Homo sapiens: one gene and its partners. The protein of the gene in region 3 purifies or fractionates together with the protein of the main gene of each other region. This does not show direct contact. Each region holds a gene or a part of one and is shown on either strand. Other genes may lie near its edges.

Region 1 (7,590 bases), on a different chromosome or scaffold from region 3:
ATCCTGCCACGTGGGTGTCGCATGGTCTTTTCTCACAGCAGGCACATGATGCTCAAGGGGGTGAACTTGTGCCAGGCCAGGGCTGGGCTCTGCACCAGGGAGATACTCTCTCTGGAGCCAGGGCTGGCCACCGGGTTGCCCACATAAGGTTGCCCAGGTCCCCCGTCACCTGACACCTGACCCACTCCCTTGTTTGCCATGCGTGTAGTATGCTGTGGATGTGTTCGCAGCCCCACCAGACAAAAAGCTCCATGATTTCAGAAACGATGCTGTGTCCACCCGTGTGCAGCACATGGTGCTTTGTACATAGTGGGTGCTCAATCGATATTTGCTAAGAAAAGGAAGGAAACTAGAAATATAACTTGATAGAAGACGCATCCTCTGTCCCCTCCCTCCAACTATCCATAGTGATCCTTATCCAAGAGCACATACCTGGAGCAAACCGGAATCGTAGAATCCTGGGATGTCAAAGGCAAAGCCCTGGCACAGCACCCTATCCATCCAGCCCTTCAGGATGGCTGGCACGCTGAACCAGTACAGCGGGAACTGTGGGCGGCAACACCAAAGAGAAACTGAGGCTGCGGCTCGCCTCAGGTTTCCTAGTTTAGTTTATCTGGTGATTCGGAATGAAGCCCACAGCCCTCCTCTTCCCTGGCAGCTGGGCAGGTGAGGGTAACCCTTATGGTCAGCTCTGAAAGGTGCAGTGTGGGTGTCAGACGGGAACGGAGTTGACAATGGTCCTTGTTGCTGTTACAGGTAGCTCTGCATCCCCCAGTGATGACAGCCCCTGATGCTGGCCCTGGGCAGGCAGGGAGGGGACGAGGAGCTGTGCGTAACACCAGCTTTGGAGCAGCAGTCTGTGATCAAGCCAGTCAAAAGGAAGAGTATGGAAAAGCATGCCCCTTCGCCTGCCTGGGGTGTGTTGTTAGCATCTGGAAGTCAGACTGAGTTCGGTGCTGAGCATCTATGGATTTAGACACCAACTAAAGTCATGTTTGTATTCCTTAGACCAGCGCTAAGATCTCCCTATCCCATAGATGCCCTAACATTACATCCAGTGTTACCGCCTGGGAAGGGAAATAAACATAGGCAATCATCTGTTACCAAAGGTGGAAGCCAATGTCTCTTGTGCTTTCCATATAAAACAAACTCAGGACTTGGCATTGAAACCCAAGCTCCACGACCTGCTGCTGTGTGACATTGGCAAGTTACTTGACCTCCCTGTGCCTCCTTTTTCCTGATTCATCAAATAGGGCTACTAATAGTTCACAGCTCACAGCATCCTGGTGAGGATTCGAAGACACACCACAGTGCCCAAAACAGAATCAATGCTCAGTGAGTGGTGGGCTCTGATATTAGTAGTGCAGTAGTGATGAATGAAATTTTTATTAATGTTGAATAAAAGAATAACTTATAATGCAGACCCTCTGGACAAACTATCAGAAAAAAAGGGAAAGTAGGGAAATGGAGTGAAATGAAGTGAAACAAAAGAAAGGCCATTATAGAAAGGCCAGGTCTTAGCCTACCCAGCCACCGGGTTATGGGAGTGGAGTGGGTGCGAGGAGGAAAGCGGGCTCCACGTGGCCGGCCGACCCAAGGGGGACAGGAGAAGCAGAGCAGAGAGCTCAGCGTGGCTCTGCTGGGACCACGCACCCCAGGATACAGGCCCGTCATACTGGCATGGTATTAAGACGGAGATGGTAAACCACATGGTCACCTAGGCCTGAGGACTATGAGTCCACCCACCTGTAATTAGGACAAAGGACGTCCTGCACTTTGGTCAGATTAGCAGCTCAAGGTCACTGAGTAAAGAAAGGGCTGGTGTCGGGAAGGGGTGTGCAGAGGCAAGCCTGGGCAGGGATGAGGCAGCCCTCTTCCCGCACATGCAGGTTGCTTTTATGAAGGCTTGGGAACCTCATCATTCTGGAAAGGTGGTTTTGTCTGGAAAGTGGTCACATGCCGCTCACCCCCTGCCTTGCCCTCACATGGCGGACTCATGCGAACAGTGCTCTCGTTCTCCTGCCCACTCCGCATCCTCAAGCAGGGTTGGAAAACAGAAATGATCTGAACCAATCAGATCCCTTGGTTGGAAATTCTGGATCTAGGGGATCCAGTCCCTGGCAAGCAGTGAGAGAGAACAGAGCCAAGAGGCAGAAAGGAGCAGATGGGAATCTGTGGACGAGAGCAGCTACAGCTCTGTCCTTGGGATCCAGGAGGCCCAAGTGACCAGAGCCCTTATAATAGATTCCCCTTTCCTTCTAGTTGGACAGGAATTTCTGTCACCCAACAATTCCCTCAAAGCTCATGTGCGTACTCTGCTGCCAGGTTTACACAGCCACAGCCATGCCTGCACATCTTCCTTGCAGTGGCGGGAAGTGGCCTGATGAGTCAGCACTCCTGGAGGGCATTTTGCTGGGCCAGTTCACTCTGCAGTGGCATCACCTCCTTGTGAACAAATACAGGAAGGTGGCTGGGCTGGGGGTGAAGCAACCACTGAGAGGGTAGAAACCAGAGATTTTCCTCTTAATGATCAGGATATTTAAGGCAGGATATTTAAGGAGATGCATTTGGCCTGATTTACCCTGATAAACATTTGTGCAGATAAATGTGGTTCTCAAGCAGCCCCAGAATGTCTCAGGGCAGGAACGGGAAGAGAAGGGAAGCAACAAGACTGGCAGGTTTCAGATGATTCTTGGACCACTGGAATAATGGAAATATCCTTCATTCCTATTTACATGGCAGTCGGGATTTGGAGTGAGTGATATTGGCTACGTGGATATCTTTACCCAATTAGGTAAAGTGTTTAAAGTAGTGTTACATCGGCCGGGCGCGGTGGCTCACGCCTGTAATCCCAGCACTTTGGGAGGCCGAGGCGGGTGGATCACGAGGTCAGGAGATCGAGACCATCCTGGCTAACACGGTGAAACCCGGTCTCTACTAAAAATACAAAAAACTAGCCGGGCGTGGTGGCGGGCGCCTGTAGTCCCAGCTACTCGGGAGGCTGAGGCGGGAGAATGGCGTGAACCCGGGAGGCGGAGCTTGCAGTGAGCCGAGATCCCGCCACTGCACTCCAGCCTGGGCGACAGAGCGAGACTCCGTCTCAAAAAAAAAAAAAAAAAAAAAAAAAAAGTAGTGTTACATCTACGTACAGTGTTTAAAGTAGTGTTGTAACTAGATGAAGTGTTGTAACTAGGTGAAGTGTTGTAACTAGGTGAAGTGGTGTAACTAGGTGAAATGTTGTAACTAGGTGTTGTAACCAGGTTACAATATTTGCTCAGTAAGTGTGCAACTGTGCTCAAAACATTGATGCCACTTCCAGAAGCAGCACAAAACTCAATATTCAGAAAGAGTTTGTACATAAGATGAATCTGATTCAATATATTAATTAGAGAAAAACAAACCTGAAATATCACTAGGTCAGCCTCCCGAACCTTTTTCTGCTCATCAGTGATGTCGCTAGCCAGAGACCTTTGCTTGTAGGCTTCGTGGGTTTCCACTCCATAATTGAAAACCTCAGGATTAGAAAGAGTACCTGTCGGGGAAGAGGCCAAACATTCTCACTCCTAGGTGGGCATCCACAGCCCATCCCAACCATCCCAGTAGCACTGTGTATACCGGACTCCTCAGACAAGTCAAAGACATTTGCTGCAACCTGACCAGAAGCTGCACCCTGGGTCCGAGCTAGGGAAAGAGAAGCAGTCTGGGAGGGCTGCTGATTGAGCACTTGCTACCTAGCAGGTGCTGTGCTCTACACACATCACCTTTCTTCATAACAACTGGTGAGACTGGTGTATTTCCCAATTTACCAGAGAGCAAACTGACACCCAAGAGAGGCTGGATGTCTTGTTCAATGCCAAACAGGTCTAAAAAAATAAACTCTACGCTTTAATTTCATGCTCACCTCCACATTTTTGAGTATCTGTGTCTTGATTTACATATTTTATATTGCTTATCTTTGGCTCTTAACAGGTCACGTAGTGATTATTGTTTTTGATAGATTTGTCTGTTAGACTTAATACTAGTAATGAGTGGACTGTACACAATTACAGTATTAGAGTGTTCTGTGTACTTACTTTTACCAGTGGGTTTTACATCTTCAAATGTTTTCTTTTTGCACATTAGTGTTTTTCTTTCTTATTGAATTCCCTTTAGCATTTCTTGTAAGGTGGGTCTGGTGGTGGTGCATTTTCTCAGCTTTTCTTTGTTTGGGAAAGACTCTCTCTCTTTCAGAGTTGAAGGCTAGATTTGCTGGGTACAGTATTCTTGGTTGACAGTTTTGTTCTTTCAGCACTTTGAAAATGTCCCACTACCTCCTGGCCTATATGTTTTCTGTTGAGAAGTCTGTTGCCAGATGAACTGGAGCTCTGTTACATGTTATTTGCTTTTAGGATCCTCTTTTTGTTCTTGACCTTTGAGAGTTTAATAATTATATGCCTTGGGGTAGTCCTATTTGAGTCAAATCTGTTTATTCTATGACCTTCCTCTACCAGGATATTTATCTCTTTCTGAAGTTTTGGAAAATTTTTCTGTTATTATTTCTTTGAATAAGCTTGCTATGCCTTGCTCTTGCTCAGCTTCCTCTTAAGCACCAATCATTCTTAGATTTGGTCTTTTGAGGTAATTTTCTATATTTTGTAAGAAATCTCCATACCTTTTTCTTTTTTCTCCTCTGTGTATTTTCAAATCACCTGCCTTTGAGTTCACTGATTTTTTCTTCTGCTTCATCCATTCTGCTGTTGAGAGCCTCTAATGAATTTTTCAGCAAATGTATTTCTAGTTCCAAGATTTCTGTTTGATTTTTTAAAAATTATTTCAATCTCTTTGTAAAATTTAACTGATAAATTTCTGAACTGCTTTTCTGTGTGATCTTGAGGATTACCACATTTCCTTAAAAGTGCTATTCTGAATTCTTGGTCAGAGAGTCCAAACAGTGCCGTCTCGTTAGGTTCAGTCACTGGTTCCTTGCTTTGTCTGTGTGGAGAGGTCATGGTTCCCTGTTTACTGTTGTTTCTTGTGGATGACATCTATTTATTTCAGTCTTCTATGTCTGACTTGTTTTCATTTTTATTACATATATTTGCTTAGAAAGTCTTTGCAACTTTCTTATTAAATTTTTTTTTTTTCCTCTACTAAGCCACCACCTGCTTTTTGGCACTAGATGGTGGTTTATGCCCACGTTTGCCTCAGCTCTAGTAACCTACTGTTCAGAGTGTGCCAGTCCTGAATATGAGAGGTTCCAAAGGGGATAGCATGGTAGTGTGGGAAGGCTGGCTAGCAGCTCATGCCCAGGAAACCTGCAGAATGTACCTCCTACAGTGTGGTGCTGCTGAACAGCCACTCTGGTTTGGCATCTCCTTTGGCTAAGTTACAGATCAGAGTTTCCAGGGCTGGGGACAATATTCCCATCTCCCTCCTTTGTCTCTGGCTGTTGTCAGGGATATTTCTCCCTTTAGGCACTCCTGATGCTTCCTGTGGGTTGAGGCAGGAACAGGTCTCCTTCCTGCCTGTTTCTGGGAACCCCAGAAAATTGAGAAGCTGATTGTCCCCCTTGATCTCTTTTCCAGTGTAGAACCTGTGACTTGGGAGGAAATTTCCCACACAGCTGGTGCTGGGTAGTTTGTGGGGAGGGGTGTCGTGGATATGATAGTCCAATCTCTTACCGTCTGCTTGGAGTTGTTTCACTTATGTGTGGTCTTGGGAACTATTTCATCTTCATATTTGACTTCTGGGATACTGCTGGTGATAATCCCAGTGCTATCTATTTGTTTTTGGAAAGTGAAGCTAGCTTGCTTCTATAATGCCATTTTGCAGCTGGAAGTCAACATTTTTTAAAGTAAAAAACATAAAGATGGTTTTTATAAATAGAGCATTTATCCCATGACTCACCAGTGATATCTTTGTCTGTGGCCCTCGGCTCAAGGTTCATGGCATACAAATCAGACACTGTGACGGTGCAGCCCTGCCTGCTCAGTTCATCTACAGCCACATTCTTCAAGGATCCGTTGAAAGACTTGGGTTCCTGGTGTGCATAGACAATGAGTACTTTCTTACCTAAATCAGGATAAGAAACAGTTCCTCTTGAAGAACAACCTCTCTCTGTTAAATTCAATGAAGACTAAGATGAAAATTGAATGTTCAGGTGCATCATAGTAATTGAAGCTAAGAAATATCAAATTTTCTTTTCTTTCTGTCTCTTTCTCTCTCTTCTTTTTAGACAGTCTCACTCTGTCACCCAGGCTGGAATGCAGTGGCATGATCTCAGCTCACTGCAACCTCTGCCTCCCAGGTTCAAGTGATTCTCATGCCTCAGTCTCCTGACTAGCTGGGACTACAGGTGTGTTTCGTGGGAAGTCAGGGACCCCGAATGGAGCAACTGGCTGAGGCCATGGCAGAAGAATATAAATTGTGAAGATTTCGTGGACATTTATTAGTTCCCCAAATTAATACTTTTGTAATTTCTTATGCCTGTCTTTACTGCAATCTCTGAACGTAAATTGTGAAGATTTCATGGACAGTTATCACTTCCCCAATCAATACCCATGTGATTTCCTATGCTTGTCTTTACTTTAATCTCTTAATCCCATCATCTTCATAAGCTGAGGAGGATGTATATTGCCTCAGGACCCTGTGATGATTGTGTTAACTGCACAAATTGTTTGCAGAGCATGTGTGTTTGAACAATATGAAATCTGGGCACCTTGAAAAAAGAACAGGATAACAGCAATGTTCAGGGAACAAGAGAGATAACCTTAAACTCTCACTGCCGGTGAGCCAGGCGGAACAGAGACATATTTCTCTTCTTTCAAAAGCAAATGGGAGAAATATCGCTGAATTCTTTTTCTCAGCAAGGAACATCCCTGAGAAAGAGAATGCGTCCCTGAGGGTGGGCCTCTGAAATGGCCGCTTCGGGGCGGCAGCTGTCTTTTATGGTCCAGCTGTAGGGATGAAATAAGCCCCAGTCTCCCGTAGCGCTCCCAGGCTTATTAAGACAAGGAAATTCCTGCCTAATAAATTTTGGTCAGATCGGTTGTCTGCTCTCAAACCCTGGCTCCTGATAAGATGTTCTCAATGACAATGGTGCCCAAAACTTCATTAGCAATTTTAATTTCGCCCCGTCCCGTGGTCCTGTGATCTCGCCCTGCCTCCATTTGCTTTGTGATATTCTATTACCTTGTGAAGCATGTGATCTCTGTGACCCACACTCTATTTGTACACTCCCTCCCCTTTGGAAAATCACTAATAAAAACTTGCTGGTTTTACGGCTTGGGGGCATCACGGAACCTGCCGACATGTGATGTCTCCCCTGGACACCCAGCTTTAAAATTTCTCTCTTTTGTACTCTGTCCGTTTATTTCTCAGACCGGCCGACACTTAGGAAATATAGAAAAGAACCTACGTGAAATATTGGGGGTGAATTTCGCCCAATATCTGGCTGAATTTCCCCCGATAGATGTGTGCCACTACGCCCAGCTAATTTTTTGTATTTTTAGTACAGATGGGATTTTGCCATGTTGGCCAGGCTGGTCTTGAACTCCTGGCCTCAAGTGATCCACCCGCCTTGGCCTCCCAAAGTGCTGGGATTACAGGCAT
Region 2 (7,590 bases), about 22 Mb from region 3:
CTTTTACTTACTTGTTATATTCTAAATCTTTTGTTAGAGCCTAAAAATATCAATAGAATGCATATGTATGTGATAAAGATAGTCACTCTTTGTCATATATGTTGCAGGGCTTTTGTAGGGTTTTTTTTTCCATTTTGCACCTAAATTGCTTATGTTTTCTGTTTCCTAGAATTTTTTTCAAATTTTTTTGTGTAGTGAAATTTCGTGTTATTTCATTTTGTTTCCACAACTCAGTGAAATTTATATATATTTTTCATTCCACTAACCAGCCATGGGCCTTGAGCAAATCACTAGTATTTCTAGATCTCAGTTATTCTGTAGAATTGGGAGAATAATACACTATTGTTTTAAAGAAAGGGAGATGAGCCAGCTGATCTCTTGATCCCTCTGAGCATTAGGAACCTTAGAATTGTGTAGTATTACATTGTATATTTTATTTTTTCAGATGGTTGACATTACTACTGAAGAACTGAAACAGCAGTTTGATCAAGAAATAAAAGTAATGGCAAAGTAAGTCTTAATCTGGCAGTGCGGTGTAGTGGAAAGAAAAAAGACAAGGAGTAAAGAACCTGGTTCACTCTAGAGTATGCCATGAACTAGTGATGTTTGCACATATATGAAATTAAAATAAAGTGTTTAGATTAGAGAAATTGAAAGTACTTTTGGCTCCATAATTCTATGATTACATATACTCATATGCCTGGAGATTAAATAGCAGTCATTTTTATTTATTTATTTTTTTTGAGACAGAGTCTCGCTCTTTTGCCCAAGCTGGAGTGCAGTGGCATGATCTCGGCTCACTGCAACCTCTGCCTCCCAGGTTCAAGCGATTCTCCTGCCTCAGCCTCCCGAGTAGCTGGACCTACAGGCGTGTGCCACCATGCCTGGCTAATTTTTTTCTGTATTTTTAGTAGAGACGGGGTTTCACCGTGTTAGCCAGGATAGTCTCGATCTCCTGACCTTGTGATCCACCTGCCTCAGCCTCCCAAAGAGCTGGGATTACAGGCGTGACCACGCCTGGCCGCAGTCATTATTTTAAGTCACAACAAAGTTACGTGAAATTTCACTATCATGTCCTTCATTATCATGTTTTCCACTTCCAGAATTCATGAGAGATCAATTGTAGAGATACTTAAAAACAACTATCTATAGAGTAATAGGCCCTTATATATAAAGTAGCATCTATAGAGCAACTAGAGTCATGTTATCTGTAAGGATGCTTAGAAGGCATTGATCCTGTGTGCTGGAAAATTGTTGGACATCATCAGGAAAAGTAGGAGGGACAAAGTAGGAAATGTATTCTAATTATTATAGTGATTAATAGTGATTGATATTTGAGTGTGTGCAACATGCCAGACATTGTGCTATGTACTTTATGTGCATTGTCTGTCTAACCCTTACAACTGTTACAACTGCCCATTTTGTTTGTTAACTGAGATTTAGAAACATTAAATAGCTTGTCCAAGATCACATAGCCAGTAAGTGTTAGAGATGGGATTGAAATCCAGATCTGTTTGATTGCGGAGCCTGAACTTTAGATCTGAATCGTAATGGGATTTACCAAATTATACCCATTAAACCCACTGCTGTAAATCACCAATCATAGTTACCTAACCTCAAGTAAGAAGAATAGACTAGAATTGATTTATGCACGGTAAAAATGATACATGCTGAAAAAAGATCAAACTTTTTTTTTCAGGATTTGTCTTCTTCACTCCTACCCCTACTCTCCAATTCTAAAAGTAACTTGTTCACAGTAGGTCATCTGGAAAATACAGGAAAACATTTTTAAAATATACAAGCCTATATGCATGCAGGACTTAATACGTAGGTGATGGGTTGATAGGTGCAGCAAACCACTATGGTACACGTTTACCTGTATGACAAACCTGCACATTCTGTACATGTATCCCGGAACTTAATAATACAAACCATCTCTCAAATATATCACTCAGAGATAACCACTGCTAATATTTTTATATACTTGCTTCATGATGTGTGTGTAGCATTTTCCCATGTCACTAAAAATAATTTGAAAACATTTTAAATTATTGTACAACAGTCTAGCATATGTGAAAATCATATTTTATTTAACCATAGCTAGGTTTGTTTCTAATTTTCAGTATTAAAAATAAAGCTTCTTTAAAGTTCTTTGCACATAAATCTTTAAATGCAGTTATACTTACTTTATCATCTAGGGTAAAGTCCTAGAAAAAGAATTACTAGGTAGGAATGCATGAACTTTTTAAAGACTTTCTAAATACACATTCAAATGGCTTTTGAGATAAGTTACTACCAGCAATGTATTACAATTTCAAACTTTACTGGTTCCTTACCTTCATTTAATATCATTACTTTTTTTTTTTTTTTTTTTTTTTTTGAGACGGAATCTCGCTCTGTTGCCCAGGCTGGAATGCAGTGGTGCGATCTTGGCTCACTGCAAGCTCCGCCTCCCAGGTTCACGCCATTCTCCCGCCTCAGCCTCCAGAGTAGCTGGGACTACAGGCGACCGTCACCATGCCCGGCTAATTTTGTTTTTGTATTTTTAGTAGAGACGGGGTTTCACCACGTTAGCCAGGATGGTTTAGATCTGACGTCGTGATCTGCCTGCCTCGGCTGGGAATACAGGCGTGAGTCACTGCGCCCGGCCTATTATTACAATTTTTTAATAAGTGCCAGTCTCTGGATCTTACTAGCAGAATGAACTTGGCCAAGTTTTTTAACTTTCTATTCGTTAATTTTCTCATCTATAAAATGGGACAATAGTACTTACTTAAGTTATTGTGAGGATTAAATAAAACAGATAAATCACTTGCCACACTGCCTCGTTTATAGTATAAATTCAGCAAACGTTAACTACTCATGTTTAAAATGTGCCAGTTTGGTGGAAAATGGGACACTTACTGTTTTAATTTGCACTTCTTCAAATATTTATGAGACTAGAAGAAATTGATATAATGAACTGCTAGAATTGTGGATCATTTTGAATGAACAAAATGAATAAGCACTTAAATAATAAAACACTTATCATGTGCCAGATACGTTTCTAGGCTGTCATGTTTACATTTGCTCATTTAATTGTCTCAGCATCCATATTACATACTGTTTTCTGCATTTAGCAGATAAAGGAGCTGAGGCTCAGTAAGGCTGTTAACTTGCGGTAGGTCACATATCCAGGAGGGGGCAGAACTAGACTTTAAATTTAGGATGTATAACTCTGAGCCCTGTTTTCTTTCGTCTTACCACAGATGCTGCCACTTTATTAGATTGTAGGTCTCTTTAGTTTTATTACTCTCAAGTATATAAAGACACTCAAATTAGGTTATAAATAATCCAGTGTGATTAAAGATCAAAAACATGTAAATTAGATGTGATTCAAGATCATGTCTGTAAATCAGTGCTTTGAGTGTGTTAGAAAATTCTTGACAGTATTAGCATAAAAATTCAACGGACTTCTTGAAATCTTATTTGTGCCATCATTGAAAATTGGGCTAAAGAAAGTGAGCATCAGCCTAGTCCTTAACCAAACTTATCACAAGTTCCAAAAATCTGAATTATTTAGCTTTTACTGTAAAATAGAAAGAGGTTTGGCCAGCTGTAGTGGCTCACACCTGTAATCCCAATACTTTGGGAGGCCAAAGTGGTAGGAGCACTTGAGGCCAGCAGTTTGAGACCAGTCTGGGAAACACAGTGAGACCTCATCTTTACAAAAAAATTTAAAAAGTAGCTGAGTGTGGTGTACACCAGTAGTCCAAGCTACTTGGGAGGATGAGTTAGGAGGATCACTTGAGTCCAGATGGTCGAGGCCGCAGTGAGCTATGATTACACCACTGCACTCCAGCCTGGGCAACAGAGTTAGACCCTGTCTCAAAAAAAAGAAAAAGAGGTTTTACTTCTAATGTTGATTAATACTGGCTGAAAAGAGAAGTATTTGCAGAAAATTATAAACAGTTACAATAAACATATATAAACATAAACATCAAGTTAGAAATAATATATAACATACTATTTTTTTGCTCTTTTTTTCTATTAAAACTTTGAATAACTTCCAACCTATAGCTGAATATATATTTATTATAATAATTTTGCATGAAAAATTATTTGTCACAGGTGTCAACATGAAAACTTAGTAGAACTACTTGGTTTCTCAAGTGATGGAGATGACCTCTGCTTAGTATATGTTTACATGCCTAATGGTTCATTGCTAGACAGACTCTCTTGCTTGGTAAGCTATTTGTTCATCAGATTGTTTGGCTTTTTGTTTATATGCTGGAATATTAATATTCATTTTGTTACTGGATTATTTAAACCAAATTCACTTTCATATTTTTCCTGCTCTATGAAAATTATACAGTTGATATGTCAACAAATTATACAGTTGATATGTCAACAACTGGGTTGCCATTTTATTAGGTGGTAATCTTAAATGTAGAATTCAGTTAAGACTATACTAGGAAGATGCTTTTATATATTTTTATCTTCAAATAACAAATGTAAACACCCATTTGAGCTTATTTAGATATTATTTTTAATAACTTAAAAATGTAGTCCTAAATTATTAATGCTATAACATCATCTTCAGTTGTTGCCTAGAAAAATATTCTGTGTTATATATTCTCTGTAGATTTTTTATTATTCTTTCTCATTTTTAATTTGGTTTATTTCTTTATAAGGATGGTACTCCACCACTTTCTTGGCACATGAGATGCAAGATTGCTCAGGGTGCAGCTAATGGCATCAATTTTCTACATGAAAATCATCATATTCATAGAGATATTAAAAGGTAAATGCTACTGTTTAAAAGTTTTTGGAAAGCTGTCTTTAAAGAATAATTTGCTGTCACTCTATTCACGATTCATATGCAGGTCTTAACCTAGAGCATCTGGACTTTTTTCCCATCACTCCATGAAAGCTCTTCTCAATAAGGACATCTATAATCTCCTTTATTCCAAGCCCAGTGACCTACTTCCAGTACTCATCCTACTTGACCTTTTTTGTTTGTTTTAATAGTAGTTTATTCTGTTCTTCTTGACACTTTTGCCTTATGGAAATTAGTTGTTTTCTTAGTTTATGGATCACTATTCTTTTCTGAATCACCTTCATCCTCCATGAGTACTTTTCAGTTCTCTTTCTTTCTTGTGTATTTATCTAGTTAAATATTTACCTACTATAAGTAACATATTCATATATAGAGCTCAACATCAATCAAATAAGCACAAAATAATTATAGAATGTTAATATGTACAGTTCACATATATATTATATGTATTATTATTATATAGTATAGTACATAGGATTAATATAAAGAAGGGTTTCCAAGAAAGTGACATTTAAGCAGAGATTCAAAGAATGGGCAGGAAATAAGTAGACACAATTTGAGGGTAACTGTAGAATGGATGATGGGGAGAAGAACATTCTAGGCAGAAGGAACTGCATTTGTAAGACCAGTGGTGAGACAGAATATGGGAGCATGATGAGTTACAAGAAATGAAATATGCTTTGGGAGCCAAGATAGGAGGATCATTTGAGGCCAGGAGTAGCAGACCTGACTATGTTCCCTGAACAACATAGCAAGACCTCATCTCTACAAAAAAACTAGTCAAACGTGGTATTGCATGCCTACAGTTCCAGACACTAGGGCAGCTGAGGAGGGAGGAGGCTTGAGCCCAGGAGTTCAAGGTTGAAGTGAGCTATGATCGTGCCAGTGCTCCCCAGCCTGGGTAATAAAGTAAGACTCTGTCTAAAAAAAAATGAAGTAAATGCAGTATGACTGAGATGCAGAAAGTTATAGGGTGGTGGATTGGAGATAAAACTACAGAGAAGTGTAGGAAGCTAAGTCCTATAGGACTTAATAGATCAAGGTAAGGCTTTTAGTTTTATCACAAGTGTAATGAGATGCCGTTGAAAATTTTAAGTAGGAATATGGCATCATATTTAAGTTTTGCAAAGATGATTTTAACTCTAGTGTAGAGAACAGTTTGTAAGAAGAGGCAGTTAGTAGGCTATCATAGGTGGCAGTTCATAAGAAGAGAGGGGAGCAGATTAGAAAGATTAAAATGGCAAAACTTGTTGATACCTTGGCTATGCAGGGGTTCAGGAAGAGCGAAGTATCAGGAATGACTCCTGGAATAATGGCATCCAGACTTGCATTCTGGAATGATTATGGCATGATTCACTTATGTAGAAAGGACTGAAAAAAGACTTGGTTAGGTTGGGGTTAGAGAGATGGTTAGAAAATGTGAATTCTCTTTTGTACATGTTGTGTTTGGGGTGCTTTTAAGATGTAGTAGTAGAGATGGTAGACAGTGTGATATACAGATTTGGAGCTGGAGGTCTGAGCTGAAGATATAAATGTGTATTACTTGCATACAGGTGATAATTGAAGTGACTGTATTCACTTGAGGGGAGATGTAGATTAAGAAAAGGTCACAAGATTAAGTCTTGGGGAACCCTAAGACTTAATGGCCAAATAGAAGAGATGATCACAAAAAGGAATCTAAGGAAGTACACATACAGAGAAGGGTAAGATGAAAACCTGGAGAGTGTGGAGTCCCTGAAAACGAGGAAAGAAAGTGTTTCCCAAGAGGGAGTAGTCAAAAAGAGTCAAGGGCTTTAATCATTGGATTAGCATCACCATGGTCTTTGGTGACTTTATGGAAACCCATTTCCAGGTAGTAGTTGGTTTAGAAATCACATTGTAGTTGAGAGAGTGAGAGCTAGAGAACTGAGATAGGAGTATAGACAAGTCTTTTAAGACATTTTACTAGTGAAGGGGACAGCTAGAAATAGATAAGTCATTCAGGAAACTTTTTTTAAGCTGGCAGAGATTAAGCTGTGCTTATGTGCCTATAGGAAGGATCCAGATTAAAAGGGAGAGGATAGTATGGAAGAGAGAAATGAGATGATGTGTTCAGTAGGGTTACTGAGAATGTAGAAAGCAGCTCAAGCAGAGGAACTGACCCTAGATGAGAAAAGAAACGCCATCTCCTATCCTTCATGGATTGGTACTTTCTTGTGTTCTTATATCATTGTCTCTTTTCTCCCTGTATGTTCTTTTTTTTTTTTTTTTTGAGACAAGTTTCACTCTTGTTGCCCAGGCTGGAGTGCGATGGCGCGGTCTTGGCTCACTGCAACCGTCGCCTCCCGGGTTCAAGAGATTCTCGAGCCTCAGCCTCCTGAGTAGCTTGGATTACAGGCATCCACCACCACGCTCTGCTAATTTTGTATTTTTAGTAGAGATGGGGTTTCTCCATGTTGATCAGGTTGGTCTTGAACTCCCGACCTCAGGTGATCCGCCCGCCTTGGCCTCCCAAAGTGCTGGGATTACAGGCATTAGCCACCCGCCTGGCCTCTCTCTGTATGTTTTTGCTGAGTGATATTATGTTAATTTTAACTGCTACTTATATGTGAGTGTCTTTTGAATCTGTATTATTAGCTTCCAATCCTGGATTTTTAGTATCCCCGTACCAAAAACACTTCATCTGGGTATCCCACAGTAGCCTTTAAGTCAGAACATTAGAAATCAAACTCATCAGCTCTTCCCAACCTAAAGTCTTCCCACATTTCCTTTCTGATCCAGTGAAGTCACTG
Region 3 (7,590 bases):
CAGTCCCTCTAAGAAAAGTAATTGGTAATGAACCAATGTTACAAAACTGCATTTCTTTAACAATGTTCTGTGGCTAAGGCTTCATTAAATGCTCTCATTTTTTCCTGATAAGTGTGTGTGTGTGTGTGTGTGTGTGTGTGTGTGTGTGTGTGTGCATGTTGGGTTAAAATAGGGGGCGGAGATAAAAGCAGAAGGGCAAAGTCCGGCCATACTTTCATTTACCACCTTAAGAGAAAGTTAAAATGTATGTAGAGACAGTAAGACTTTGTACACACCTTGGTAATCTCAGGTATTTTTACTCGTAACAACTAGCAACTAAATTCTTGAAAAGGGTATGTATGCTGCATTCAATTTATCCAGCAAACATTTACTGAGCTACTATGGGCAAGGCCCTGTAATAAGGCACTAGGATACAAAGACAAATAAGAGCTCTTCAAAAAAAGCTGCCCAGTCCTTTGAGAGAGGTGGGTGAATAACGTAATGCTTTGATGCTATTGCTACACATAGGAGTGTCACCCAAACCACACTGGAGGGGTCAAAGACAATCCAGGAAATAACACCTTTCTTTAAGAAAGAAAGGGAAGGGGTTCTAGAAGCAATCAATACCATTCAGACTCATGGAAAGAAAACTCCCAAAAGGGAGTGTGATTTGGTGGCAGCTGCAGAGAGAGTAGGAAAGTAGACTGGACGGACCCTTTGGGGATGGGGTCCTGAGGCTCAACCATAAGACAATGTACGAATTGGGGCCAGGGACACATTGGCATTAAGAAACAGGCTTTAGCTTGGCCACCTCTAGAGCAACCACATTCTATTTGTTGAATAGTTGGGCCAGCTGGTTGTTTCTTTAGCAGACTGTTCATCTTCTCAGTAATTTTGAGATTTCTATGTACAATTAAGTAGTACTAAATGCAATTTGGAGAAATGGAGAAATTAGGTAAATAATTTTTAAAACGGTACGGTAATGCAAGCTGCAAACTCGGAATCACCTTGAAACCCTCCTTCTTCCCCACTCCTATCCAACAGATAATCAGATGTGGTCCACTTCACCTCGTCTCTTAGACATGCTTTCTCCTCTGCATCCTCACTGACTTTGCCCAGGCTAACAGCATTAACTCTCAACAGTGGCTACACATGTGAACCACCTTGGGACCTTTTAAAAAATACTGGTGACTACCATTTTTTTAAAAGTTCATTTTTTTAAAGGCCCATTTTTTTAAAAGTCAATTTTTTTAAAGGCTCATTTTTTTAAAAAGCTCCTAGATAATTCTAATATATAGTCAGGGTTGGGAACACGGGTTTATACCCTGTCCATTTCTTGGTTTGCACATCTGAAATATCCCTCTACCAGGTCTTTCTGCCTCCAGTCTGGTGGTTTTGTTTTGTTTTGTTTTGTTTTGTTTTTGATAGGGTCTTACTCTGTTGCCCACACTGAAATGCAGTGGCGTGATCTTGGCTCACTGCAACCTCTGCCTCCTGGGTTCAAGCAATCCTCTCACCTCAGCCTCTCGAGTAGCTGGAACTACAGGCAGGCACCACCACACCCAGCTATTTTTTTTTTAATTTTTTTTTTGTATTTCTTGGTAGAGACAGGGTTTCACCATGTTGGCCAGTCTGGTCTCGAACTCCTGACCTCAAGTGATCCGCCCACCTCAGCCTCCCAAAGTGCTGGGATTACAGGCATGAGCCACCATGCCCAGCCTGCCTCCAGCTAGCTCTTGCCATCTTTCCCCCAATTCTTCTGCCAACTTCCAATCCACTATCTAACCTAGAATCTAAGTCATATTTTAACAACACAAATCTTTCAGTCTCCTACTTAAAAATCACCCACAGACTTAATATCTTTCCAGCATCCTCTTCTCACCATCTTCCCTACACCCAGTCCGCTGCACTGAATGAAATGCTATTCATGAGGAAGACCTACGTTTTCATACACACACCTCCAGGTCTCTGCAACTGCTATTTGTTCCACCAGGAATGTAATTCCCCTCCTTTACTGCCTGCCAAAATTCTACTCATCCTTCAAAATCCAGCTGGATGGTTTCCCCATTTGTTTTTGAGAACTGTTTACTGAGTGGTTACTCTGGCCAGATACTCTTCTGGGTGCCAGACACAGCCCTCCTCTGGGAGGAGAGAGTCGCTATCTTTTTTTTTTTTTTTTTTAATTAGTAGACTTTATTTTTTAGAGCAGATTTAGATTTACAAAAAATTGAGAGGAAAGTAAGGCGTTCCCACACACATGCACACAGCTTCCCAATTATTAACATCTCACACCAGTGAGGTACATTTGTTAAAATCAATGATCTTAAGTTGACATATCATTATTACCGTAGTTTACACTAGAGTTCACTCTTAGTGTGGTATATTCTATGGGTTTTGACAAATATATGATAATATGTATCCACCATTACAGTATCAGAGTAGTTTCACTGCCCTAAAAATCATCTGTGCTCTGCCTATTCATCTAACCCTTACCAAACACCCAGACACCATATTTTACTGTCTCAATTGTTCCTCCTTTTCCAAAGTGTCATATACTTGGAATCATATGGTATGTAACCTTTTCAGATAGACTTCTGATATGGTTTTGCTGTGTCCCCACCCAAATTCATCTTGAATTGTAGCTCCCACAATTCCCACGTGTTGTGGGAGGGGCCCAGTGGGAGTTAATTGAATCATGGGGGTGGGTCTTTCCAGTGCTGTTCTTGTGACAGTGAATAAGTCTCACAAGATCTGATGGTTTTAAAAATGGGAGTTTCCCTGCACAACTTCTCTCTTGTCTGCATCGTAAGGCGTGCCTTTCATCTTCTGCCATGATACTGAGGCCTCCCCAGCCATGTGAAACTGAGTCCATTAAACCTCTTTTTCTTTTTTTTTCTTTTTTATTTATTTTTTAATTTTACTTTAAGCTCTGGATACATGTGCTGAACATGCAGGTTTGTTACATAAGTATACATGTGCCACGGTGGTTTGCTGCACCTATCAACCCATCATCTAGGTTTTAAGACCCGCATGCATTAGGTATTTGTCCTAATACTCTTCCTCCCATTTCCCCCAACCCCCCAACAGGCCCTGGGTGTGTGATGTTCCCCTCCCCTCTGTGTCCATGTGTTCTTATTGTTCAACTCCCACTTACAAGTGAGAACATGCAGTGTTTGGTTTCCTGTTCCTGTGTTCGTTCGCTAAGGATGATGGTTTCCAGCTTCATTCATGTCCCTACAAAGGACATGAACTCATTCTTTTTTATGGCTGTGAGAGTTGCTATCTTTTATGTGCTTCTGTGATCTTTTGTACAATTCTCGCTAAAGTACCTCTTTTACAACAGTTTAATCTTTTGTTTTCCTGGCTATTTCACCAGAGAGACTGTGAGCTCCTTGAGGACAGAACTATGCCTTATTCATCTCTACATGCTCAGCACCCAGTCCATATAAGAGTTTAGTAAATGTTTACTTATTGTTGACCAACTATGAAGAAAACGAAGAGCAGCTCTTCTGTGTTTGTGTGTGGACCTATCTCTGACTGACTCCTGAGCTTGATCCTGGAATTCCCTTTTTGCTTCATTGGCTGCAGTCAATCAACTGTCTTCTGACCTCCTACTCTGTTTGTTGGTTTGTTGTTCCTACTCGAAAGCCTCCTCCTTCCACCCTTCTGAGTTGTGATAGAAGACAATTTATAAAGCAGTACCAAATGCCAAACTGTGGCTTAGCCTGTGAGGCTGCCTGGAGAGGACCCGGCTCATCCTAAAAATCCAAGAAAATCAGGGCAGGCTAGCACTACCTGACCCTCTTTAACAAAGTCCTGGAGACTTTTCAGAAGTCTTTTTTTTTTTTTTTGAGGTGGTGTCTCACTTTATCACCCAGGCTGGAGTGCAGTGGTGCAATCTTGGCTCACTGCAGCCTCTTCTTCCTGTGCTCAAGCGATTCTCCTGCCTCAGCCTCCCAAGTAGCTGGGACTACAGGAGCATACCACCACGCCCAGCTAAGTCTTGTGTTTTTAGTAGAGACAGGGTTTCACCCTGTTGATCAGGCTGGTCTCAAACTCCTGACCTCAAGTGATCCACCCACCTTGGGCTCCCAAAGTGCTGGGATTACAGGCGTGAACCACCACACCCAGCCCAGAAAAGTCTTTCATGCTATAACATCTGGGGATGGAAAGCATTTAACTTCCTCATTCTTGCAAGACAGGTCTTTACTTCTCCAGTCATCTGAAATCATATCTCTTATTTCCACTTATAAAATTTTATTTTCAAATACCCCTTTCAATGTTGATGAAAAATGACATATTTTAATATGAAAGATGAACAAATAAGTGGAACTGATGTCCTGTGACAGTAATTCTTTCCATACCTGTTTAAATAATTTGACAGCATATGTTAGGTTTTGAATCTCCACTCTGTATACCTCAAAAATCTCTCCTTCTCCAATTAGGAAGTCTTTGTGGAAATTTCTAGTTCCTTCTATGATATTTTGAAAGCTGATGGAAGATTTAAGCAGTATTCCTTAGGAAGGAAAGTAGGGGGAAGATAAGTTAGCTAAGAAGGAACATCACCATTATAACCAAAATTTCTATATTAGAAACAAATCAGAGTCCAGTGGAAGGTTAGTAGAGAAAGGCCCAGGAACCAAAGCCGAAGACCACCATGTGCTCTCTGCACATTTACTTGGATCTAGTTCCCACCATTCCACAGAGCAAAGGGTTTCTTCGGACAGCAGCATTGTGATTTTTACCTCCTCTCAAAAGAGATCAGCCAAAGAGCTTAGTGGAAGAAATTCTTCCAAGATTCAATTTTCTGGTCATTAGGTCAATGTGTTGCTGTTGACCCACTATGAACCTAAAACTACTAAAAAATTATGGAAGTGGAAATATGGACATGACTAAGCAATATTCTCCAAGCATGACTGATAGAAACACTTCTCATGTGCCAAATCCTCTAACTGCCTAATTTACTTCCTCAGAGTGAATTAGAAAGATGATTCAGCCTTTTAAAAACTCACCCAAAGTGGAGATTGGGAGAAAACATGCAAACAGGAATCAAATACAAATTGAAAAGGAAAAGTTTGGCTATGTCCTTCAGAACCCAACTTTGGCTATATTTCCATAGCTAATACAAAATCCTCTCTGAAGACACTTAATGTTTGATTTAGACCTTATTGTTGAAGAACCAAAGCCTTATCTAACTTTCCTAATTCTTTTTTCAATGAAAGAAGCATCAGATCTAGTGGCAAAGACTAGGCAACGCAGCCTTAAATAGTCTTTAACATTTATCAGAATGATTCCAGGTGGAACTAAATTATTCTTCCTACTAATAAAGTAGGAAAGTTGATATGGAAGATAACTAGATTTTCATACTGACCTTCAGCATTGCTCTACAATCATCTTGAAAGATTTCTGTAATTGCTGTGAGCATTTCTAAAACTATATAAATCTCAACATAATTTTAAAAATGTTTTCCCATGACACACAAACATAGCAAATTTTACCAACAAAAAACTAAAATATCCCCCGTGTGAAGAGACCACAATTGCATTCTTCATTAGCCAATGGAGCCTTAACATAATAACATATCATCTATTAGAACTATAAGTGTCAATCAAATTGAAGTTATTTTAATATCTATGAAATTTTATACCGAATTTGAATATAAATGATTATTGTGTTTATTGGGTATTTCTCCCTCTTAATTCACTTAAATGAAAGTATGATTTTAAAAAAATTGTTGGAAAAAAACTGGTTTTTTCATACCTTTTTCATTATGTTCAGGAATAAGAACATTATCCACGGTGACATTGGCTGTTTCCTAAGAGAAGAAATATATACTAAAGTAATTCCATTTCATACATCTAGAAAGAACAGAGCCTCAACACAAATCCAAAGCTCCCTGGGGACTATGCAGTGCAACAGAGTGCAACCTAATTTAAAAGAAAGCTAGCAGAAATCAAAGTTATTTCACTTTATTTAATAGCATTCATTGCCATATTTAAGGCTTTCACACCAACAGTAAAAACTCAAGTTTCAATGTCATAGTCAGTCAAAGTCAATTTTAAATTACTTTTAATGCTATAAAAATGATCACTGCTAGTTTGCTCTAATAAAAACTAACAGTGACATGCAAAACACCAACCAAAAAAGGAAAATTAAAAGCTGAGTTAAGACAAATGTATAAATCACAGCATCCTTAGTAGTTCTCAGTCTCATCTCTGACAGATCACTGAGAACAGAAAGCTCTTAATTTCTCAAATATTTATAAATCTCTAATTTCCTAAATCCTCAACTAAATAGAGAATAATGAGAGAACAAAGGCATTTCTGATTTTTAAAAAGTGCCGGCAAATCCAGCATTTTTCTGCCTGCTAATTTCATTCCTTATGCTCAATTATACATGCAACAAAGTTCAAGGCTCATTTTCTATGCACACATACTCTACCTTGAATAATATATTTGGAAATCCACCTTCCTGATAACTCTTCTCTGAAGGACTCAACACTGCTCCTGAAAGAGAAATATGGGAAGGTAGATACAAAAAAATTTTATGTCCCTAATGTTTTTCCTTTCTGAGACTCTGAAAATAAATGTCTTGCTAGCCATTGTTCATTTCTAAAGTTTCATTCCCATGCAACATTACGATAAATTTGTGAAAGTATTATTTGTGAAGTATTATATTTGTGAAATAGCTTTCTAATTAACAAATGTTATACAAACATACTTTTGTTCACTTAAAACATAAGTAGTTGCCTTAATCTATTATTAACTTTAAATAATTTAAATAATTAAATAATAAACAAGTAATAAGACAAATTGTTGTTAGACATTAAAAATATTAAAGCACAAAGAAGAAAATTTAAAAAAAATTATCAGCCTTTTTTTTTTTTTTTTTGAGATGGACTCTCACTCTCGCCCAGGCTGTAGTACAGTGGCATGATCTCGGCTCATTGCAATCTCTGCCTCCACTTGAGAATGTCAAGTGATTCTCCTGCCTCAGCCTCCCAAGTAGCCAGGATTACAGGCACCTATCAGCATGCCTGGCTAATTTTTTTTGTATTTTTAGTAGAGATGGGGTTTTACCATGTTGGCCAGGCTAGTCTCGAACTCCTGGCCTCAAGAGATCTGCCTGCCTCGGCCTCCCAAAGTGCTGGGATTACAGGCATGAGCCACCCACCACACTGGGCCTTTTTTCTTTTTTTTTTGAGACAGAGTCTCGCTCTGTCACCCAGGCTGGAGTGCAGTGGTGCAATCTTGGCTCACTGCAACCTCCGCCTCCTGGGTTCAAGTGATTCTCCTGCCTCAACCTCCTGAGTAGCTGGGATTACAAACCCCTGCCACCATGCACAGCTAATTTTTGTATTTTTAGTAGAGACAGGGTTTCACCATGTTGGCCAGGTTGGTCTCAAACTCCTGAGCTCAAGTGATCTGTCTGCCTCAGCCTCCCAAAGTGCTAGGATTACAGGCATGAGCCACAGCGCCCAGCTGTATTATCAGCATTTTTGCACATATATTTTTAAATGTTACAATTATGATATTATATCTTCCTGGGTTAGTTTATTTTTTTATATCATCTTGTGCCATAAAGTATTGGAGGTGGTGTGTGTGCGTGTGT
Region 4 (7,590 bases), on a different chromosome or scaffold from region 3:
ATATGTCTATCTTGTAACATGATTTTGAAAAATCATAAATTACAGTCCATTGAATACATGATTATGAGGATGCATGCAATCATCTTCCAAGCTGTTGCCATCAACACTCAGAACAATTCACCTGGTATCTTGTTGAGACCGCACCTTCTGCCCTTTGTGTCTGTCTTGGGGTAATCAAGAGGCAACCCAGAGGCCAGCGCTCAGCACCAAATGGTCAGTGTTGCCCCCCATCTTCTCACTGGGATCTCATCATCAACCTGCTCAACCCCTAAGTTGGCACCCACAAGAGACTTCCCTGCAGCCCTCTTCAGCCACAGGATATCACAGTGAAGCGCTTAGAAATGCAAGACATGTTGTGAAGCACGATGCCGAGGAGGAAGACCAAGACGCAAGCCACCAAGATGACAGTGCACACCCCCGACCAGGTGGAGCTTTTCACCACGCCCCGCCTGTCCTGCTCCTCCTCCACCGCCTCCTGGGGAGCCCCACCTTGCAGAGGCTGCTGTTCAGCAGGGATGGTCACCACGGTGACGGACTTCTGCTGGCTCCCGGGCAGCAGGCGGCAGCCCATGTCTCCGGGCAGCAGCGCACGCTCCTTGGAGATGGGCAGGGGCAGCATGTAGCACCCATTGCTGGGAAGTTTGATGAAGACCGGGGTGTGTTCGGAAGTGTGTGGAATGGCGATGACAGCCAGGACCTCCGGGTCGTCCGGGAGCTGCGACACGGAGAAGCCGGGAGGCAGCTTGGTGACACCGCGGCACCAGGGGCACCGCACATCCTTCTGGCTGGTCCTCATCTGCTGCAGGCACACTGAACAGCAGGTGTGCTTGCAGTCCAGCAACTTGGGCCTGCGCCGGGGGCTGTAGTAATTGAAACAGATCTGACATTCCAGCAGAGAGTCCTGGGACAGCGTCTCCATGGTGGACCGTGAGCAGGAAGGGCAAGGCCAAGGTGAAGGGGAAGGAGCTGCTTCTCAGAGGCCACCGCCCTGTGTCTTTGCAGTGCAGGTAATGGCAAGCTCACAGGCATCCAGTACTCACAGGTGTGTTCATTTCTGAGAGAGACAAATAATGCAAACAATCTTAATTATTTCAAAGAAGTTGAGATGTCAACATATCTAATGGATTTATACCATTGCTCAAAAGTCTTGACACTGGGCCAAAAGCCTAAAAATTTACCAGTCTTGAGACTACAGGATTCCCATAACGCCCAGTGAAAGGCGAATGAAAGTTGTCTCAGAGAGCATGTCATGGCAAATACTTAGTTCATTTCTAAAAAAATGAACAACTCCAATAGTTGTAGACGATGCATCTGTATTTCATAAAGAGGGCGTCTTTTGTTTCTGTTTTGTACATTTAAGCAAGCTCTGGGTCATCCTTCTAAAATATACTAGAGAAACTTTCCTGCTTCCAATAAGTTCATAGTATTTCCTAGAAGTAAATTTCTCTCCTTAGATCCTCTGACCTTTTTTCCTGACTCTACTTACCCACTTGTAAGTCTTAATTGCAAGATTTAGGCAACTTCACAAACCTAGGTACTTCCTATAACTAACTCGCTCAGTTTACATATATGGGTTAGGATTGTTCCTCTTCACAGAGAAGTAAAGTGACACTGCAGAAGAAGCACACGAAGGCATCTTTCATCTTTCCCAACAAATCATTTGAAGAGAACAAAACAAAAAACCCCAAACAGCAACAAAACCAAAAGCAGCAGTGAAGCTTAAGGCAGTGTGGATCACAAAGGCACACTCATCACAAAGGCATCACTGACATTTTCCAGTCAGTTCTTTTTGTTTCATTACTACTTAGGCTTGTACCAAGTAACACAACTAAAAGCAAGTACGATTGACCCATGAACAACACAGGTTTGAACCACATGGATCCACTTAAGTACGAATTTTTTGAATAGATACGGTCAGCCCTTTCTATGAGTGGGTTCTGCATCTGCGACCAAATGACATCAAAAATACAGCGTTCTCAGGATGCAAAGCCCCTGTATACCGAGGGCCATCTTTTCATATTCTTGGGTTTTATAGCACCAACTGTGGGCCTTGAGTATTCACAGGTTTTGGTATACATGGGGGTCCTGGAACCAATGCCCTCAGATAGAGAGATGACTGAACCATTAATTCACTAATTGAAATCAAATATTCTATAGTTAAAGGTTGACAGGGAAGTCTGGCAAGCATTCCTCATTGTAAAAAAAAAAAAAAAGTGTTAGCATCCTGGTATGGAGGGGAGGCAGAGAAACTTAGTTCAACTTCACTGAAGTTTGGGAATGTCCTCTAACGCTCCACTGGCATTTCAGTAAGGGCTGCCTGACTCAGTTTCCCATTGAAAGCATCCAAATTATGTGTCCCTGGATGGAGCCATGATGACTCTAGAAAGAATTACTCAACCACTATTGCAGAAAAAATTGCTAGTCCTAGAACCCCACCAACACCTAGAGATGGGAGCTATAACACTCCTTCACATTTGTCTTAAAAGTGACCCTTCTTTTTCCTTTCCAATTTCCTTTGTGAAATTAAGAAAGCACTCCCCCATCATGATATATAATGTGTTAACAATCAAAATTAAGAATGCACCAAAAACCAACCTGGCCGGCGTGGGGGCTCACACCTGCAATCCCAGCACTTTGGGAGGCCGAGGAGGGGGAATCGTTTGAGCTCAGGAGTTTGAGACCAGCCTGGGCAACATGGTGAAACCCTATCTCTACAAAAAATACAAAAACTAGCCAGGCATGGTGGCAAGCACCTCTAGTCCCGGCTACTCAGTAGGCTGAGGTGGGAGGACCACCTGAGCCTGGGAGGTTGAGGCTGCAGTGAGCCGTGTTTGCACCACTGCACTCCAGCCTGGATGACAGAATGAGACCCTGTCTCAAATTAAAAAAAAAACAAAAAACAAAAAACAAGAAAAAGCAAACCAGTTCAAAGACAAAAATAACCACTGTTAAAAACTAGTAACAATGAAAAGATCAACATACTTTAAAATACATTAGCTATATTAGAAACACTTAAGTTACTGAAAGTGAAATACAGTAATGTAGCATTCAGGAAGTTCATATCAGGATCAACTACATAGCTATCCACTAATTCAAAAAATATTTATGGAATATCTATTATGCACAAAGCACAAAGCTAAATACTGTAGGATATAAATCAGACCCAGATTCTACCCGAAAACAACTTAAACCTAGGTAAGAAGGAACACACGAATATATTTTTTCTTTCATTCATTTATTCATTCAAATTTTCATTGCATATCTACTATGTGTCAAGCGTGATGTTCCTTTTTGTCCCTTGTAACTAAGATCTTGTCATTGCCCATAAGAAAGTCCTGGCCTAGAGATGGGAGCGCTAAGTACTTAGACAATTGTAACGTAAATACAAGGTACCCTAAGGGAGCCGAAGGAATCAGGGGGAATTTAGTGAAAAATCTGGATTATCGAATTAGACACAAAAAATCAGGGGACAGGCTATTTTCAGGTTATGGAATCAGCATGAGCAAAGGAAAGAAGGTAAGCGATTACAGAATTATTTTCTATTCTACCTGGGACACTGGCTAGAGGATTGTTTCTAATACTAGAGCAACTTACAGAAGTCTTCTCTAAGAGTTTGATCGTTTTAGCCCTTACAGTCTCTGATACAGATGTCTTTTAAAGAAATAAAACTCTCAGAGAACCTGCAAGCACTCTCCCCAGACCCAACCAGGGATAGCAGATCCCACAGGGAGGGGAGAAATGAGCTTAGTCAGGCACAGGCCAGAGACTGTGGACCGTGGGCAGCCCCCAGTGCCAGGCCAAGGATTCAGGAGTTTAGAGTGAGCAATGGGAAAACACCAGAAAGGTTAAGAGTAGCAGAACAATTCATTCAAGGGTAGACTGGAAAGACCTATTGGGAGGCTATTACATTAGGCAAGAGTTAAATGAGTAGCTGAAGTGAATAGTGATGATTAGGACAGAATGATGAGATGTGAGAAGAGGTTCACAGAATTCCAGCAGGATCTTGCAGGGTATTGCAATGAGGTTGTACAGTGAAAGAAGCCAAAAATGAAGCCTTTAGAGGAAGGTAATATCATTATGAGAAATAGGGATCATGAAGAGAAATACAATGAGTTCTGTTCAGGCCATATTCCACTGGAGGTGCTGGGGAAGGTATTTAAGTTATTTAGGAAGATATTAAAGAGTCAAAGAGAAGGTCAGGCACAGTGGCTCACGCCTGTAATCTCAGCACTTTGGGAGGCCAAGGCAGGTGGATCACTTGAGGCCAGGAGTTTGAGACCAGCCTAGTCAACATAACGAGACTCTGTCTCTACTAAAAATAAAAAAATTAGCTGGGTGTGGTGGTGGACACCTGTAATCCCAGCTACTCAGGAGGCTGAGGCAGGATAATCACTTAAACCCGGGAGGCGGAGATTGCAGTGAGGCAACATCGCACCACTGCACTCCAGCCTGAATGACAGAGTGGGACACTATCTCAAAAAAAAAAAAAAAAAAAAAGAATCCGGCCGGGCATGGTGGCTCACGCCTGTAATCCTAGCACTTTGGGAGGCTGAGGCAGGCGGATCACGAGGTCAGGAGATCGAGACCATCCTGGCTAATATGGTGAAACCCCGTCTCTACTAAAAATACAAAAAATTAGCCAGGCATGGTGGCGGACGCCTGTAGTCCCAGCTACTCGGGAGGCTGAGGCAGGAGAATGGTGTGAACCCAGGGGGCGGAGCTTGCAATGAGCAGAGATCGCACCACTGCACTCCAGCCTGGGTGACAGAGAGAGACTCCGTCTCACCAAAAAAAAAAAAAAAAAAAAAAAAAAAAGAGTAGGATAAAATTCTTCTATAATTTTATATCCAAGGTAATACATTTTTTTTTCTTAAAACAAAACAAAATACAGGGTTCGTTGGTGAATCCTGCTCTATCTGTCTCCAGGTGAAAGTGCACAGACAGCAATCAGGTGAGACTATGATTGACTCTACTGAGATGTAGCTGTGCCTGCGGGGAAGGATTGCTCACGTTGAGCTACGGGTGGGTAGGAACAATAAAATTGAGGCAGGGTACAAAATTTTACAGACTCCTGCAATTTTATGAATTTGGAGAGACTTTTCCTTAACAGGAAAACCCTCAATTGCAAATGAGGCTGGGGACAAAAATGTTTCATGACATCATATCAAAACAGTGACCACCGATTTATGTATAAACCTTCTTTCTTTCCATACTATTTACCTTAACTTCTACATCACAATGTGGGAAGTAGCTCAGCAGAGTGGGAAGACTGGAGGTTTGGGACTCAAAGAACCTTGGGCTCAAAGCCTAGCTCTGTCACTAACCAGCTGTGATACCAGGCCAAAGTCATTTACCTTCTCTGAGCCTGCTTTCTCCCTGGCCAAGCAGGGATGATGGAGTTGTGGCTGAAGGTCAAGTGAGCTCATGGGATCCACATACTTCCACACAGTGAAAGGTTCAGAGAGGACAGTGCTTGTTCTCCACTTCCTCTCCACTCAGTCTAGTGCTCTGCACTGAGGCACATATCTGCCCAGAGGCACTTCCTGGCTATCAAAGAGCTGCCACTTGGAACAGCTTGGGAGGAGGCATGCAAGTGTTCTTCCTGGCCCTGCCCCAAGACCTGCGTACCATCATTGGTCAACAAAACCAATATGCAATTTTATTCATGAATTTATGTTCCAAGTAATGTTCCCTTAATTTGTGTTAAGCTCCCTTAAAATTAGATTATCCTATTCCATTTCCAACTCTATCCAAGTAAGTTCTAGGCCTTACAAGCCATTTTGACAGCAGCCTCTCTGATTTATGCACTGATTTGTTCTACATGAAGCCAGCCTGTACTGCATTCCAGTTTATTTTCTGGAGCGTAATTAGTAATGATGATGATTCGTTAGGTAAAGAGAAGGAAATTTATGAGGCTATGGAGTGAAGCTAATGATGGATCATTCTTTCCCCCTTTCATCATGAAGTCTAAAGATGTGCATCAACTATAGAAGAAAGAATGGAAACAAAGTCCATGTAGACCAGAAAAGAAATTCAGAGTTCCCTGTCAAGCGTGTTATAATAAACACATATCAGTGATTACTTTAGAGCAAGGGTCTCCAACCCCCAGGCCACCAACCAGTACCAGTCTACAACCTGTAAGGAACCAGGCTACATAGCAGAAGGTCAGCAGCTGGTGACAGACAATTACCGCCTGAGCTCCACCTCCCGTCAGATCAGCGATGGCATTAGATTCTCATAGGAGCACAAACCCTACTGTGAACTTCACATGCAAGGGATCTAGACTGCACACTCTTTATGAGGATCTAACTAATGCCTGATGATCTGAGGTGGAACAGTTTCATCCTGAAACCATCGGTCCCTACCCATCCGTCCTGTGGAAAAATTGTCTTCCACAAAACCCATCCCTGGTGCCAAAAATGTTGGGGACTGCTGCTTCAGAGACCTGTTTGGCCTTGTTTTCCTTACAGGAAGAGCAAGATGTGATACTCCAATAAAATACTCATTAAGATTTAAAGGGAAAGAGTACTTCAGTAGAATGCATAAGAACAAGTATATAAGAAAATATATGAGAACAATTTTTAAATGTCACCACAATTTATTTGAGAAAAACTTAAAGTCAAGATCAAAGTGAAAAACAGACCACAAAGAGAAGAACAGTGGCTCGGGGAGGGCATTCTTAAAAAATAGATGGCTCCCAAGATAGAACTTATTTCAAACATAACCTCATAAAACAGTACATAGTTACATAAATAATATTAATTGAACAATATATAGATAAACAAAAGGGGTCTTTGTGTTGTTGTTGCTGTTGTTATTTTGAGGCCCTAGATATTTTGTGCTTTTGAAAGTCCTTTACAATAACAATTTACTTTCACAAAATAAAATTTCTTTTTAAAAACTATACATAATTTTATGCATCTTTTGAAAAGGTACAGGTGTGACAAAGTGCGCGCATTCATTTGGTAGGTGGTAAAATAGCAAAGATCTCCAACATTGAATTTTTATAATCCCAGTTGCTTTTAGAAGTCTAGGCATATGAGCCCAAGGATAAAAAAAGCCAGTGAAGTAGATAATCCAGATAGTTTTACTCTGCTTACACTCTTAAGAATCTTCATACATTCTGTGACAGTGGGGTTAATTATGAAGTCTCTCTGTGGAGTTGTGGCCTGAGCTGATATTGATTACATCGGGCTGACCTTGAAGTGTTCCATTTAATAGTCTCTATGAGGACCTTAAATTCAATGGTTGTGTTGAGAAAAAAACTCAAATGCAGAGATTAAACTAGGCACTACATTGCTTTTCTTTTCCTATTGAAATAGCACATCTTTCTGATACAGGCCATCTACTTAAATCTTCAACAAAATATAAATATTTGAAATGGGATTAAACAAAATAATCACAATTCCATTTCATCTGGTATTTCAGCTGGCTTGCCAGCCACTTAGTTATATTGGATCTTAGCAAACACTCCAATTAGTGGCAAGAATGGGAATGCCCGGTGACAGATGTGTCATTGACTTTTTGTCCTCTGGTAGCAAAGAGCAATCCTTCCAGGACACAACTGCTGCATACATGCGTAGTCCAATT

The links.
Region 1: the proteins of IRAK3 (region 3) and NQO2 purify together in Homo sapiens (affinity purification with mass spectrometry, with the first as the bait; one large-scale study listed by BioGRID). This does not show direct contact.
Region 2: the proteins of IRAK3 (region 3) and IRAK4 purify together in Homo sapiens (affinity purification with mass spectrometry, with the first as the bait; one large-scale study listed by BioGRID). This does not show direct contact.
Region 4: the proteins of IRAK3 (region 3) and RNF152 purify together in Homo sapiens (affinity purification with western blotting, with the first as the bait; one study listed by BioGRID). This does not show direct contact.

The regions. Positions count from the first base shown.
Region 1 is NC_000006.12:3,008,486-3,016,075, reverse strand, and holds part of NQO2 (ribosyldihydronicotinamide dehydrogenase [quinone]), read right to left. Parts: intron 6,052-7,590; coding exon 5,887-6,051; intron 3,533-5,886; coding exon 3,402-3,532; intron 547-3,401; coding exon 433-546; intron 1-432. UniProt on the Homo sapiens protein: The enzyme apparently serves as a quinone reductase in connection with conjugation reactions of hydroquinones involved in detoxification pathways as well as in biosynthetic processes such as the vitamin K-dependent gamma-carboxylation of glutamate residues in prothrombin synthesis.
Region 2 is NC_000012.12:43,773,520-43,781,109, forward strand, and holds part of IRAK4 (interleukin-1 receptor-associated kinase 4), read left to right. Parts: intron 1-445; coding exon 446-510; intron 511-4,110; coding exon 4,111-4,225; intron 4,226-4,673; coding exon 4,674-4,783; intron 4,784-7,590.
Region 3 is NC_000012.12:66,208,351-66,215,940, reverse strand, and holds part of IRAK3 (interleukin-1 receptor-associated kinase 3), read right to left. Parts: intron 6,486-7,590; coding exon 6,421-6,485; intron 5,795-6,420; coding exon 5,740-5,794; intron 4,496-5,739; coding exon 4,344-4,495; intron 1-4,343. UniProt on the Homo sapiens protein: Putative inactive protein kinase which regulates signaling downstream of immune receptors including IL1R and Toll-like receptors.
Region 4 is NC_000018.10:61,815,545-61,823,134, forward strand, and holds part of RNF152 (E3 ubiquitin-protein ligase RNF152), read right to left. Parts: intron 1,055-7,590; 5' UTR 920-1,054; coding exon 308-919; 3' UTR 1-307. UniProt on the Homo sapiens protein: E3 ubiquitin-protein ligase that acts as a negative regulator of mTORC1 signaling by mediating ubiquitination of RagA/RRAGA and RHEB.